Regions from separate parts of the Homo sapiens genome. Here all the other regions are linked to region 2. The links come from fine-mapping of genetic effects on gene expression. A gene starts in region 2. Each other region holds a variant in brackets. All regions are shown on one strand. Distances are from middle to middle.

Region 1 (4,145 bases), 85 kb before region 2:
GAGGGGGAAATACCTCACCAGAACACAACCCACACATGTTGGATGTTAAAAAGGAAATGTTTATTTTCATGTTATAAGGTGATTACAAACTCCTCTAAAAAAAGCAAAGATGAATTTAAAATATTGATATACATATTTATCTAAAAAGCAAAAGAGAAAAAAACCCCTGCAAAATACAGGGAATCATATCATAAAACATTTATACACAAAAGCTTGTATACTGCAAGACTGAACTACACACCAAGGATCTTGTTCAAATACAAATGTTCCTCCTCAGAAAAGTCTCTTGTTGGTTGATTTTTTTTTTATAAAAGTTTAAAATATCTTAAAAATATTTTGAAGTTTTAAAAAAATGTCCTGATGAGCCAGACATATTTCTGGAAGGAGGCAAGACCCACATTCTCAGCTTTCTCTTGTGCTAAATACAGAGTCACAGTTGCTAGGGATTGGGAGATTAATTGGGTAAAAAAAAAAAATGAAGCCAACATCTCAATTTGAAGTCAAATATATAACAGGATGCTCCATCCCTCGGAGAACACGCCAGAACATGTCTGTAGTGACACCCACAAGAGAACAATGCAAAAATGCTTCCTATTACAACAATATATATTCTGAGGATCAGGGAGAGAAGGAAAGGGGGAGGGCTGCCCCCTGCTTTCTGGACTGCCCACCTCTACAAGTTTGGCTCTCTGGGTTTGTTTTGTTTAGTCTTGTGGTTTTGTACTTCGATTTTTGCACACAGTGGTATTTACCGTGTCCCAGGCAGCCTGGCCTGGGACCACATGGGTCTGAGGGAGGGATGGGACCTCAGGCCACCTTGAAGGATTTTCTCTTGGGTCCTTTCCTGGCTTGTGTCTGAATCTTGGGTGGGGTGGGCTGCGGGGAGCAGTTAGGTGCCTCTGCCTTTAGACTGGCTACCCAGAGCATTTCCCCAGGGAGAGGGGCTGTGCTGGGAGATGCTGGCTGGGTGGGGGACCAGTGTGGCGGTACCCGGGTGATACAAGAGTGCCCTGAAGTGGGCTGGAGGGGCCATGCTGTGCTCTCCCCTTGTGTTTCCCCACTGTCTTTGGGGGTATGCTGGGGATCCAGGGGGCAGTGAAGGAGCTGCACATGGCCCAGGGGTTATGCTGTCCTGGAAGGAGAGCATCCAAGGCCACTTCCTGCTGCCTGGAAACTCCCCGCAGAGCCTCGGGGTCAGTCTGGAGCCAGGGCGACTTCATCTAAATCCTGCCTAAGGATCTGGCACACCTCTGGCTTCTCTGCACCTCAGTTCCCTCTTTCACAAACAGGGATCTCAATTCCTAGCTCACCAAGGGCTGCTGGGAGGAAGGAGGGCCCCGTGCAGGGCTGGGGTGTGCAGGTGAGGCTGGAGTCACCCAGCTCACGGAGCCACCGCATGGGTCCAGGAATTCTGTGAGGATGGTGGGAGTGTGGCTGCTGCTGCTCCCCTCATCCCTGAACATGGAGGGGAGCGCATTTCCTTTTCCATAAAGGCTTGTCTTTGGTTGTCAGGAAGACCTTGAGGATGTTGCTGGATGTAGCCCTGGTTAGACACTCACCATTCCCTGCACCTACCTCGGAGAACCTGCAGCTAGAGCTGTTTCAAGAAAATCCATTCCTGGCTCACAGTGCCTCCCTGAGCCTCAGTTACCTCATTTACAACAAGGGCGTTGGGTTAGGGGACCCTGGAGGCCCTTCTCTCCCTGACCGTCAGGAAATCTCTGTGGCCCTAGCATGGCCCATCTCAACGCAGTGTCTCCCACTTCTTCATCTTAAAAAATTGATTTAAACAACCCCCTCGCTTCCTTTCCAGATCTGGCTGGCTGGGCTATGTGCGGGCATCAGCATTTCTGACCCATCCCAAGCAGAAAGCAGGTGAAGGACTTTGCCCATTCTCTATAGACAGGTGGACCAGAGTCATGAGCTCTCATGGAAAGTTTCGTTTATACGGAGACATGAAGGTTGAGCATTATTACACAGGTACTCGCAGAGCTATGCTCTGCACACAGAGCCAGGGCTGGCTGGGCGAGAGGGCTCTGATTGGAGACAGGTGCCTTGGGGAGAGTTGAGGAACGACTTCCTTCCAGGCGGGGCCTGGGGACTTGGTCTGC[C/A]TGTGTCTTTGGTCTAGAATTTGGTCTGAGAATCTTATAAGAAGAGGCCTTCCTCAGGCCATGTCCAGAATGTTGCAATTTGCCTACCAACCCAAAATACTGTGGCCTTTCACCCAGGGAGCCCCCGCTGGGGAGATGGAAACTGAAATGACCACAAATGCCCAGGTAGCCACTGCGTGCCAAGTCCCCTCTTCCCCACGTGCCACCTGCCCTCAATCATTGACAGTGGTTAGTTTACTAAAGTTATATAAGACAAAGGAAAACAGGTCACAATGCTACTCCATAAAATCAGGGAAAAAACAGTAAAATCAAATCAGACACAAACGGCAACCATAAATACATAGAAAAACAGGAACAAGATAGAATCGTTGAGAGTTTGGAATAGGACTGGGTGTTGTTTGGCAGAGTAGATAGCTTTGGAAACAGTGAAATATGTATGCCTGCCAAAGATGGGGTTCAGAATTGCCCCTTGGGAGGGGGACACCAAAGGCATACTCCTCCTCCCAAATTTAAGAAGGGGGTTTCCAGGGTTCCAAGAGCCCCTGCTGTGAAAATTCTGCGGTCTGCACCCCTCGAGGCAGTGACTGCCTTTGTGCGTGGTCACGTTTCGGTTTCATTTAGACTGAGCTTGGAAGTGACTGTTCAAATGGCACAGTTTAGGTCCAAATAGGGGCTGGGTGGGGGTGTGTCTGCCCTGGGGATTTGAAAGGTATAGTACCTTCTCTCCTGGTTCAGAGACAACCTCTGCTCCACATAAGGCCCTTGATCAAGCCAGTTCTGAGGGGCCAGGACCCTGACAATCCCAACCTTCTAGAAAACTCTCCTAGGCCTTCTCTTTTGGGTCCGCAGGTGGTAAATGTCTGTAAACCCAGCTATTGCAGGGGTTTTGAAGTGAAGAGCTTTGTTATATCCTAGGTCAGCACCACGGGCTGCCCTTGTTCTGAACTGGGAGCACTTCCCCCAGTGGAGGATACAGACTCAAAAGCTGTTCTTGGTGTGCCTTGCTAGGTGCCAGGGCAGCCCAGGGTGGCATCTTTAATGAGGGCTTGGCAGGAGTCTCCCAGGCTGAGAGTGGGGAGTGGGGAGATGAGGAAAGAAAGCACCCCTCCCCGACACCGGGCCCATCTGCATGCCTGGGGCCTATATCCTTTGGTCCACTCACCTCCCCACCACTCCCCTAGTCCCTCAACAGGTATGTCATGCTTCATTCCTGCAGGCAACTTTAAGAGATGCTGAGATGTTGCTTGGGGAATGACCAGAACCTGCTATGACCCCATTCAAATGCAACAGACTCATCTGAGCCCTGAGACCCCAGCTCCTGCCGGGAGAGCCTCTGCTCCTTCTCTGCCTGGAATGCCCCAGGAAGGACTGTGGCCTCCTGTGCCTCTGCCACCTCTTGCGAGGCTGAGTTGTGAGCCTCACTCCTGCCAGCCTTCTTGGATCTCTAGCAGCTCCCTCTCTGGCCAGTGGTTCTGACGGTCTACTGACTATCCACTCACCATCTCAAAATTAAAAGTGGGATTTTGCTTCTGGTACAAGTTTCTACTGCTCTTAGAATCAGACTTCTGCTATAGGGCCTCCTCATTCAGCTTCAGCCAGTCTCCTTTATGTGAAGGGTTGGTTCATTCCTTTGGCATCTCTCTTCTTCACTAAGCCAAGTTTAATGAGGTATCTCCTCACAGCCCTCCTTTCTTCCCCCTGGGTCTGCCAGCTAATGGGTCCTCTCTCCTGCTATTTCTTCCATCTGAACCAGGATTTGGAAGGTATACCACCTTAAGATGGGTGTAGAGTCCCAGGAAAATTCCATCCTGCGTTTACTGGACAGAACTTTCTGCCAGCTACACAGCACCGAAGAATTGCTTTTGAAAATGAGATCTATTGCTGGCAAGAAGATCAATTCAAGTGGTAAAAGTATATGACAATCTCTAAGTGTATATATACTTATATGTAAAAAAAAAAATACAAAGAAAAATTTACCAAATTCCCATAAAATACATCTAATTCAGTATGAAAGCTCTGCCTCTCCACGGACAT
Region 2 (4,145 bases):
ACTGAGGCAGAAAAAGGGTTGCCCAAGGTCAACTGGGGGCTGAGCCAGGCCTAACACCTCCCACCATTCTACCAGTCCCACCCTGTTGGGGGTTCTTAGCCGTGCTAGGCCCCCTTTGGATCCTCTCCAACACCATCTTGATGAAATTCCTCCCCCACCCCACCTCCTCATGCCCACCCCACAATCCCTGGGTGACTCCCTGGTCGAGAGGGAGGCAGGTGGTTGCTAAGCACTCACCCGCTCTCTCTCTCATAAAAATAAACTCCTTCTGGCTAGGAGACTCTGGACAAGATCCCCTCCCTTCTAGCCAACAAAAAATTAAAAAGAAATTTTAAAAAGATCTCCTCAGTGACATTTACTTGAACGTCAGCTGTGCCAAAGCGGGGGCCAATTTAGTGAAGTCCAAATGGAGCCATGCGCCAGTAAACCTCAGCCCGAAGACCCTCCATTCAAGTGTCTGGGCAATTACTGAGCTGATTTATTTCCCCAGACAGGAAACGGGGGCCCAGGCTGCCTCCCAAGCTTTTGGGGCTGGTCCTGGGGATGCCGGGATCTGGCAGAGGCCCAACAGTGACCAAAATAGCCAGGCCGGTGGCCCTACCCGGCACACACCTCCCTGCCTGGGAGAGCTGCCCACAGGTCTCCTCTCCAGTCCAGGCTGAAGTCCAGGCTGAAGCTTTGAGGCTGTAGGAGGAGGTCCCTGGAATTCTCTCTGTGTGGCTTCCCTAGTGGGAGGGGGACGAGAATCTCCTACTCAAAAGAGGAACCCACAGAAGGAAGAGAAATAGTCTGGAGGGGGAAGTGTCCTGCTGGCCCTGCCGGCTGTCCACTACCCCTTGGCTGCCCCTCCGGGCCTTGGTCCCACCACTCAGGACTGCTGGACGCTGGCGCTGCCACCTGCACACCACCTATGGAGTGCATGCACCTATGGAGCCACGCTGCCCTATCACCTCTCCCCACTCAGCGCCGGCCCTGGAGAACCAGCTCTGGCCATTGGACCCTCTAGGCACCAGGGACACCCTCTTGGGTACAGCCGAGGACACACGAGTGCCCACAACCAGGGACCTGGAGACACAACCACACTCAGGGACACGCACGTGCACCTAGCCAGGGCCTGGAAGACGCAGCCCCCCACACACAGATTCATGCAGACACAAACGGGGACACACAAGAGCACACATCCAAAGACAGCACACTCAGGTATCACACACAGAGAGGCACACACACACAGCCCAGCACGCAGAGAATAACAGACATGCACCGGAACACACATGTGCACGCTGCTGGGGACACGGTGAAACAGTCACCCTCAGAAACACAGACACAGGGATACGGAGGCACATGTAGGCATCCTGACGGAGACAGGCACACAGATATGCCACACACACACACACACACACACACACACACACACACACACACACACTCTCCTGCCGCCCGCACCAAGAGCCGGAGCCCTTTTGCCGGGGAAACAATAACAGCCCCGCCAGCGGGACTGAGCAGGCGACTCTCGGTCCCTTCCGCGGTGGTGAAAGGGGCGCCGGATGGGCGCACGCGGAGGGGAGGAGGCCGGGACTGCGGCGACGCGGGGATGGGGAGGGGCTGCAGACGGCGGGCAGCGCCGGCTGCGCGCCCAGCTCCCGGTCCCTCCGGTACCTGGGGTGGCTGCGGCGCCGCCCGCGCTCTGCTCGGCTGTGCCGGGTTCCGCCGGCCGGGGGCTGCCTGCCCGCTCGCTCTCTGACCCGCTGGGTGAACGCTCCGCACTCCCTCTTGGCGCAGCTTGTCCTCTGGGCTTGCGGTCCTCGGGGCTCGGCGTTGGCGGCGGCGCGAAGGAAGCGGTAATTTATAAGCGGCTTCTTCCTGACCTCGCGTGTCTGTTGTCTGAGCAGGCAGCTCTCAGCATCACCCATCCTGCTGGGTGGAAAAATACCAGCTCGGCCGGGCCGGGGGCGGGGCCGGGGCGGGGCCGGGGCTTCCAGCCCCGCCCCAAGTGCGGACACACGCGCGCACACATACACATGCACACACATACACGCAAACACGCACGCGCGCATGGGCTCGGACACACAAAGAACCCGGGCTCGCCGAGCGCGCGCGCACACCCTCATGCCGCGCGGCGAACGTTCGTTGCCAGGTGCGGCAGCCCGCCCTGGGCGCCTCCTGCCTGCGGAAGAAGAGCAGGACAGACCCGACCCGACCCGCCTAGTCCTTTCCTTCACAGCAGCCTCCAAACTCCACCGCTCGCCTCTTCCGCCAGGCTCCTAGGATGAGGCCCAGGGCTCCTGGAGCAGCCAGGTGCAAACCAGACCGGGCTCGCACTCCACTGCGTTGCCCTGGGCGATCGTCCACGTTCTGGGAGACTCGGTATGCCCCGGGAGGGTGGCCTGAGCTTGTGGTGTGAAGCCAGGTACAGAGCTCCAGAATCCTGGCCTTGCCATGGCTGTGTGACCCTGGGCAAGTGACTCAATTTCTCTGCCTCAGTGTCCTCATCTATAAAATGGAAAGGAAAATAGTAGCGCTTGTCTCCTCCGGCTGTTATGAAGATCCAAGGTTAACAGCGTAGAGAACTCGGAACGCACCCGGCATCTAGGAAGTGCCAAGCCAGTGTCAGCTAATGTGACTATTTTTAAATGGAGATGGGGAGTGTGCCATTATTCTTGTCCTTATTTGAATGAACGGGCCCTCAGGGACCATTTTCCACTGCCCCGCCCTGGCAGCATGAGAGGGAAACGCTGTGAGAACCCCGAACCCCAGCCTTCTCCTGTCCCTCTCTCTCTCTCTCTCTCTCTGCACCTGGGAGGCGGGGAGGAGAGAGCCGATCCTTCCACCATTTACACGGAGAATGAAAGAAGAAATACCGGCCAGGCGCGGTGGCTCATGCCTGTAATCCCAGCACTTTGGGAGGCCGAGGGGGCAGATCACCTGAGGTCAGGAGTTCGAGACCAGCCTGGCCAACATGGCGAAACTCCGTCTCTACTAAAAGTACAAAAATTAGCCTGGCGTGGTGCCGGGTGCCTATAATCCCAGCTACTCAGGAGGCTGAGGCAGGAGAATCCCTTGAACCCGGGAGGCGGAGGTTGCAGTGAGCCGAGATCACGCCACTGCACTCCAGCCTGGGTGACAAGAATGAGTCTCAAAAAAACAAAAAAGAAGAAGAAGAAGAAATACCACACAGGTCCGACCAAGAGCTGCCCCCACTCAGGCCAGGATCCCTGCCTGGAAGGGCTCTGCAGCCACTCTCCCTGTACAGCCCCAGGATGCTAAGGAGCATCCCGAAGTGACACTGGCTCTCCCTGGAGGCCCCTGCCATCGGACTCCAACCTGACCTTCCAGTGGGTGCTCCTCATACTGGCTCCAGCCAAGACAGACGAGGACCACTGGGCACATGCCCTTCCTTGCCTTCCTGTCACCCTTCCCACCCTTCTCTGCGGGCCCCGGGTGGCCCCTTCCTCCAGGAAGCACCTGGGGATCAGCAGTGCCTCTAGGGTCCCAGTGGCCCACGTGACATCTGCTTCTGGCCACCTGAGCACTCTCCTTTGAGTTCAGGGTCACTGTACCCTTTTATAGGTGAGCAAACGAAAGCTGAGGAAGAGGAGTGACTGGGTCTCCCACATCCCTCTGCTTCAGCTATGAGGTTCCCTCATGAACTGCAGGAATAGACGTCAAGCAAAAACTCCTCAGACGCCCTGTGCATGTGTGGTCGCACAGGGCACAAAGACTGAAGCAAAGGGGCAGGTCCTAGCGTGGGGAGGGGACTCCAGGATTGAAGTTTGAACCAAAAGGAGGCTTTGACTAAGCCACGAGCAGTGAAGCCGGCAGGAGAGGAAGCAAGTTCTAGCAGAGGTGCCTGCCGTGCGAAGGCCTGAGAGCAAGGTTGTTGGTGGCAGGGCTGAGCTTGAGGGTCTGAGAGAGTGAGCAAGGGCAGTGGCTGTGGGAGGAGGGAAGAGTTGTGTGTTCAGAGCTGCAACTTGGAAAGGCCCATGGGATCCTTTGACCTCCAGGTAGGCCAGCGGAGCCTCATGCAGGTAGTGCCAGCGCAAGACACACGAGTGAACCATCTATCCAGTTACCAGCTCCATGAGGGATGGGATCTGTTCTTTTGCCTCCATCAACTCCTGGAGTCTATCATAGGCCTGACACACAGT
Region 3 (4,145 bases), 22 kb before region 2:
CGGTAACCACTGCGCTCTGGGGCACCGCCTGGCTGTGACCTTAGATACCAGGAAGTCTCTCCCCCTCAACCTGACACAGGGGGAAACTGAAACCAGCAGGAGGCAGGGGAATTATTTTTCAAATTAACTCAAGGATTAGAATCCAGGTCTCTTGAATCAGCCCAGATCAAAAGTATTTTCACGGACCGGGTGGCAGCTGGCCTCAATCATAAGAGCAGCAGCTAACAGCCCTGGCTGCGCGAGGCCCAGTGCTCAATGCTTGCAAGGCATCTTCCCATTTAATTATACTCATAATTGGTGAGAGTCATGCATACCTGCCGTGATTACTAACTACTGACCCCGCAGGCTAGGGAAGAAATGTTTAGCCATTTAAATTCAGACTGGCCAGAGAAATTAAGTGGCTGATATCCAGGGGTGTGACCAATCTCAATGAAACTGATGAGGGGAAGGACCATGGGTAGTCTCCCAACCCACACCATTTTTGGAAACGCAATTGTTGCCTTCCACCCTCCCTGCCCCGAGTCCCCCACCCACCCCTCACCTCCTTAGAGCTTCCTTTCACTCCTGCAAAGTGTGTCACCCACTGCAGCCCCGGGTGTAATCAGCTTATTCTCCCATGTACAGCCTGGGCCATCTGAAAACGGTTCCCTTTACTCCTTGGGGGCAAGGATACCTGAGATTTAGGCCACAACTATATATAGCCAAGAAATCCGTCCTTTTTAATTGACTCATCTATTTATTTGGTCAAGCAGTTCCTGCTGACCCCCAGATGGCCGAGTTCTACATAATTCCTCCCGACAATGTGTGTGGAGAGGAGGGGCCCTCCCTGCCTCTGCTGCTTGGGCTCTGTATTCCCAGTGCAGGCAGCTCCTGCGGGACTCTGTTTCCCAAATAAGGTTTGCCTAGTTCCACCCTTTGCCTATGCTGCATCACCTATGTTTTAGTTGGAACCTAACACTGCACCCCTTCCCAGCTGCAAGTGGTGACCTCAGGAATGTCACTTCCCCCTGGGGGGCTCAGTTGCATCATCTGTAAAATGGGTCATCGTCGTGAATTACACAAGGAAGGTACAAGGAAGTGCCTCGAATACACAATTGGATTTGCTCTCAGGAGAAACAGGATACTCTGTGCCCAAGAAAGATTAGCCATCTTTCATGGCGTGCCTTCGTTCAACCAACACTTGACCTTGACTCCGCCCCTTCTTAGCATCCAGCTAAGTGCAGAGAGAGGCAGAAACAAACACCCCTGGGCTCCAGATCTGCCACACTGGGAAAATACCAGCTGAACGGTTTCTCCAGCCGGTGTTGTGTGTCAAACAGGCGGCTTCGACCGAGCTTCCTTCAATAGCGCCGTGTCCCCGTCCCCTCCCTCCCAATGCACTTCACGGGCTCCCAAAACCACGTGAGTCAGCAAACTGGGTTAGACACCTCGTTAGAGTGGGTTTCCTCTGGAGACTTGTGGCCGTGCCTGTGATTCTCCTGCAGCGGTGTTTGGTTGAAGGCAGGGTTTGTCTGTTCAGGAGCCAGTTGTCAAAACAACAAGCACTACCTTTAAGGGGCAGTTGGAACCATGAAATAAGGATTCCTGTTTCTGGCTGGTTCCCCAGAGTGAATCAAGACCAACCACTCTGAACAGATCCGAGGCCACTGAGCCA[G/C]ACCCAACCCCACCCCCTACCCCAGGCAGCTCCTCTCCCCTCCCCATTGCCCAGAGCAGGACACCCCAGCCACGCTGCACTCCTTAGGGCTTCTACAGGCTTCCACTCTCTACCAGGCCTTTCCACGGGCTGTTTCCCCTACTGGGAATGCCCTCACTGTCTGGTGCCCAACTGGCATATTTTTGATATTCAAGACCTCAGGGAGCTTTTTTTTTTTTTTAACTTTGCGTGCCCAAAGCACCTTCAAGAGGCCCTCCCCATCCCTGACAGGGTCCTGATTTGTAGCATCTTCCCACACAAGCTCCCAGGCTGGACAGAGGGCAGCTCATTTCAGGGTCCCTAGCCCCAGCTGGGGCCTGAACCACAGCAAAAGTCCATAACTTTTGGATGACTGATCAGACTTTCAATTCTCAATGTTTATATGCTTAGAGATTTTTCCCCAAACTTCCCCTAACGTCAAACACTCTTGCTGGGGCCTTTCCAGTACTAGGCAGAGCTGGCAGGGGTTTGAAAAGGTGACTTTCTCAAATGGACTAGAAAGGCCAAAGGAAAACAAAAGGTCTTGACTCCATGACCTTAAGCTGGGACGACCCTTCTCCCCAGAATCATCCTGCAGGTCCAGAACCCAGCCATGAGACTTCCAGACTCGGCCACACAGGGATCGCTTGGCCCACAGAAGGCCACACTCCCTGATTTTGTCTCCTTTAGGGTGAGAGACTTCACTGAATGTCTGGATTGTTAAATGTGAATAAATCACCCCTGAATTATGACCAATATTAATTAATAAGACACATTTGGTATTTTCAAAATACCAAGATGCTTTCTCCTACATGCACTTGCTAACCCAGTAGTTATCATAGGGCCCATTTTACAGATGGGGCAACTGAGGCCCAGGCAGAAGATGGACTTGCCCAAAGAAGTAGCACCAAATACTATTCTCTTGACAGCACCAAAACAGGAAGGTGGTTCTGAGAGGAGCAGAGGCCTGAGGTCTCAAGGTGCTGTGTGACCTTGAGCAGGTCACTGTACTTCTCTGAGCCTCAGGAGGCTTATTATGAGGAAAGTGGATGAAAAGGTGGAGGCAGACAGGCTCATGAGCCCACAGTCACAAACAGCTTCCTTCTACCCACCTGAGACAAGGTCCAGCCTCCTGGCTCTTTACCAACTGCACTGTGCCTGGTGTATAGTGGTTGCTCAATATTTACTAAGTGAATGAATGTTGTCTCACAACATTCATGTGTGAGTGTCTCACACTCATCCCAGGTGTGAGATCACACCGAGGCATGAGAAGGCCTGGCACAGCAGGGCTCCCTCCCCTGGACACACTGTCTGTCCTTCCAGAGGCACTTCGTCCCCTTCTTCCTATCCAGAAGACACCTCTTGCCTGCTGGCTGTAGAGTCCTTTTGAAGTCCTCTGGGTTCCTCTACAGTTTTTCCAAAGCAAATGCCCATTACTAAGGGTGTCATGTGGACAACACACATGCCACCTCTTCCCACCTTGCCCCCTTGACAGACACTGCTAATCAATCCTGGCTTCCTTCTCATTGATGTGGACCCAGTCTTGGATTCCTCATCAGAATCTGGTCTCTCTGGGTCCCCAGTAACTTAAGGGACAAGAGACAGACCCTTGTCTGGGAACCCTTGTCCAGGACTGGCAGGATGCCCAGAAGAGACTTGAGGGGCTGTGAGACTAGCAGAAGCTCTCAGGAAAACTCAACCCAGAAAATATAAATGAGAACCTAGCCCCCTCCTTGTGACAGAGGTAGCAAAGGAGGTAGGAGGCGTGAGTCCTTTGCAACACAATGGCCCAGGTGGGACCCCACAGAGCAAGAGGAGTGAGGGTAGGGATTTGGAGGTGGGAGCCAAGCTGGGGCTAGGAATTGAAAGGCTGAAGAGCAGGGATGCAACTCTACCTCTGGCTGGGAGGAGGGTGGGGGTGAGAAGCAATGACAGGAAGCCAAGGTGGCCTGCATGCAGGCCCCCAGAAGGTGAGCCACTAAGCGGCCAAGCTGGGGTGGGGCCTGGACACCGGCCCTATGCTGCACGTGCTCTGTGCCTGACTTAGTGGAGGACGCTCAGCTCAGAGGAGAGATCCGCACCAGGGCATCGGCTCCTAAATCGAAGGGGTGGAGACTCACCCAAGCTCGGCACTGCCACCCCAAGAACCTACCCTGGGAATAAATGATTTATTCTATTCACTCTTTTTTCCATGGCGAATCAGAGGTCACACAGAGGGTTAGTGACTTGTCCCAGCTCTGCCAGCAAGTGTGTGGAGACATGAGTAGATAAAGGCACCCTGAGGGTCCCTGCGGGCATTTGGGTCTGAATACTGACCCCAGGACACCTTCCTTCATGGGTGCCTGAGGAGCCAGCCCTCCAAAACCCCCGAGGCTGTCTGCAGCCCCAGGGATCCTGGCGGTGCTTGCTTTTTAAGTCCAGGAGGTTTCTGGACTTAATTGTCCACTGACTTAGAACACATGGACAGATGGAA

The links. PIP is the estimated chance that this variant, and not a neighbour inherited with it, causes the effect.
Region 1: its variant is the best candidate, but not a certain one, in a credible set for the expression of SLC6A6 in whole blood (INTERVAL, PIP 0.56).
Region 3: its variant is the best candidate, but not a certain one, in a credible set for the expression of SLC6A6 in whole blood (INTERVAL, PIP 0.83).

Annotation. Positions count from the first base shown.
Region 1 is chr3:14,485,243-14,489,387 of GRCh38, reverse strand. It overlaps SLC6A6 (solute carrier family 6 member 6), which reads right to left. Exons shown (of 15, transcript NM_003043.6): 15 at 39-4,145. GRIP2 (glutamate receptor interacting protein 2) reads left to right here. Exons shown (of 24, transcript NM_001080423.4): 24 at 1-281. Among named protein-coding and RNA genes, the nearest start is that of GRIP2, 53 kb to the left of the region's middle. The variant C/A (reference allele first, on the strand shown) is at 2,112.
Region 2 is chr3:14,400,359-14,404,503 of GRCh38, reverse strand. It overlaps SLC6A6 (solute carrier family 6 member 6), which reads right to left and starts at 1,898. Exons shown (of 15, transcript NM_003043.6): 1 at 1,657-1,898. LOC105376959 (a long non-coding RNA gene) reads left to right here and starts at 2,097. Exons shown (of 8, transcript XR_007095825.1): 1 at 2,097-3,843. RefSeq lists enhancers at 715-794, 865-924, 2,245-2,414, 2,425-2,474 and a silencer at 1,575-2,104.
Region 3 is chr3:14,422,086-14,426,230 of GRCh38, reverse strand. All of the region lies in intron 2 of SLC6A6 (solute carrier family 6 member 6), which reads right to left. Among named protein-coding and RNA genes, the nearest start is that of SLC6A6, 22 kb to the right of the region's middle. RefSeq lists enhancers at 3,207-4,029, 4,030-4,145. The variant G/C (reference allele first, on the strand shown) is at 1,655.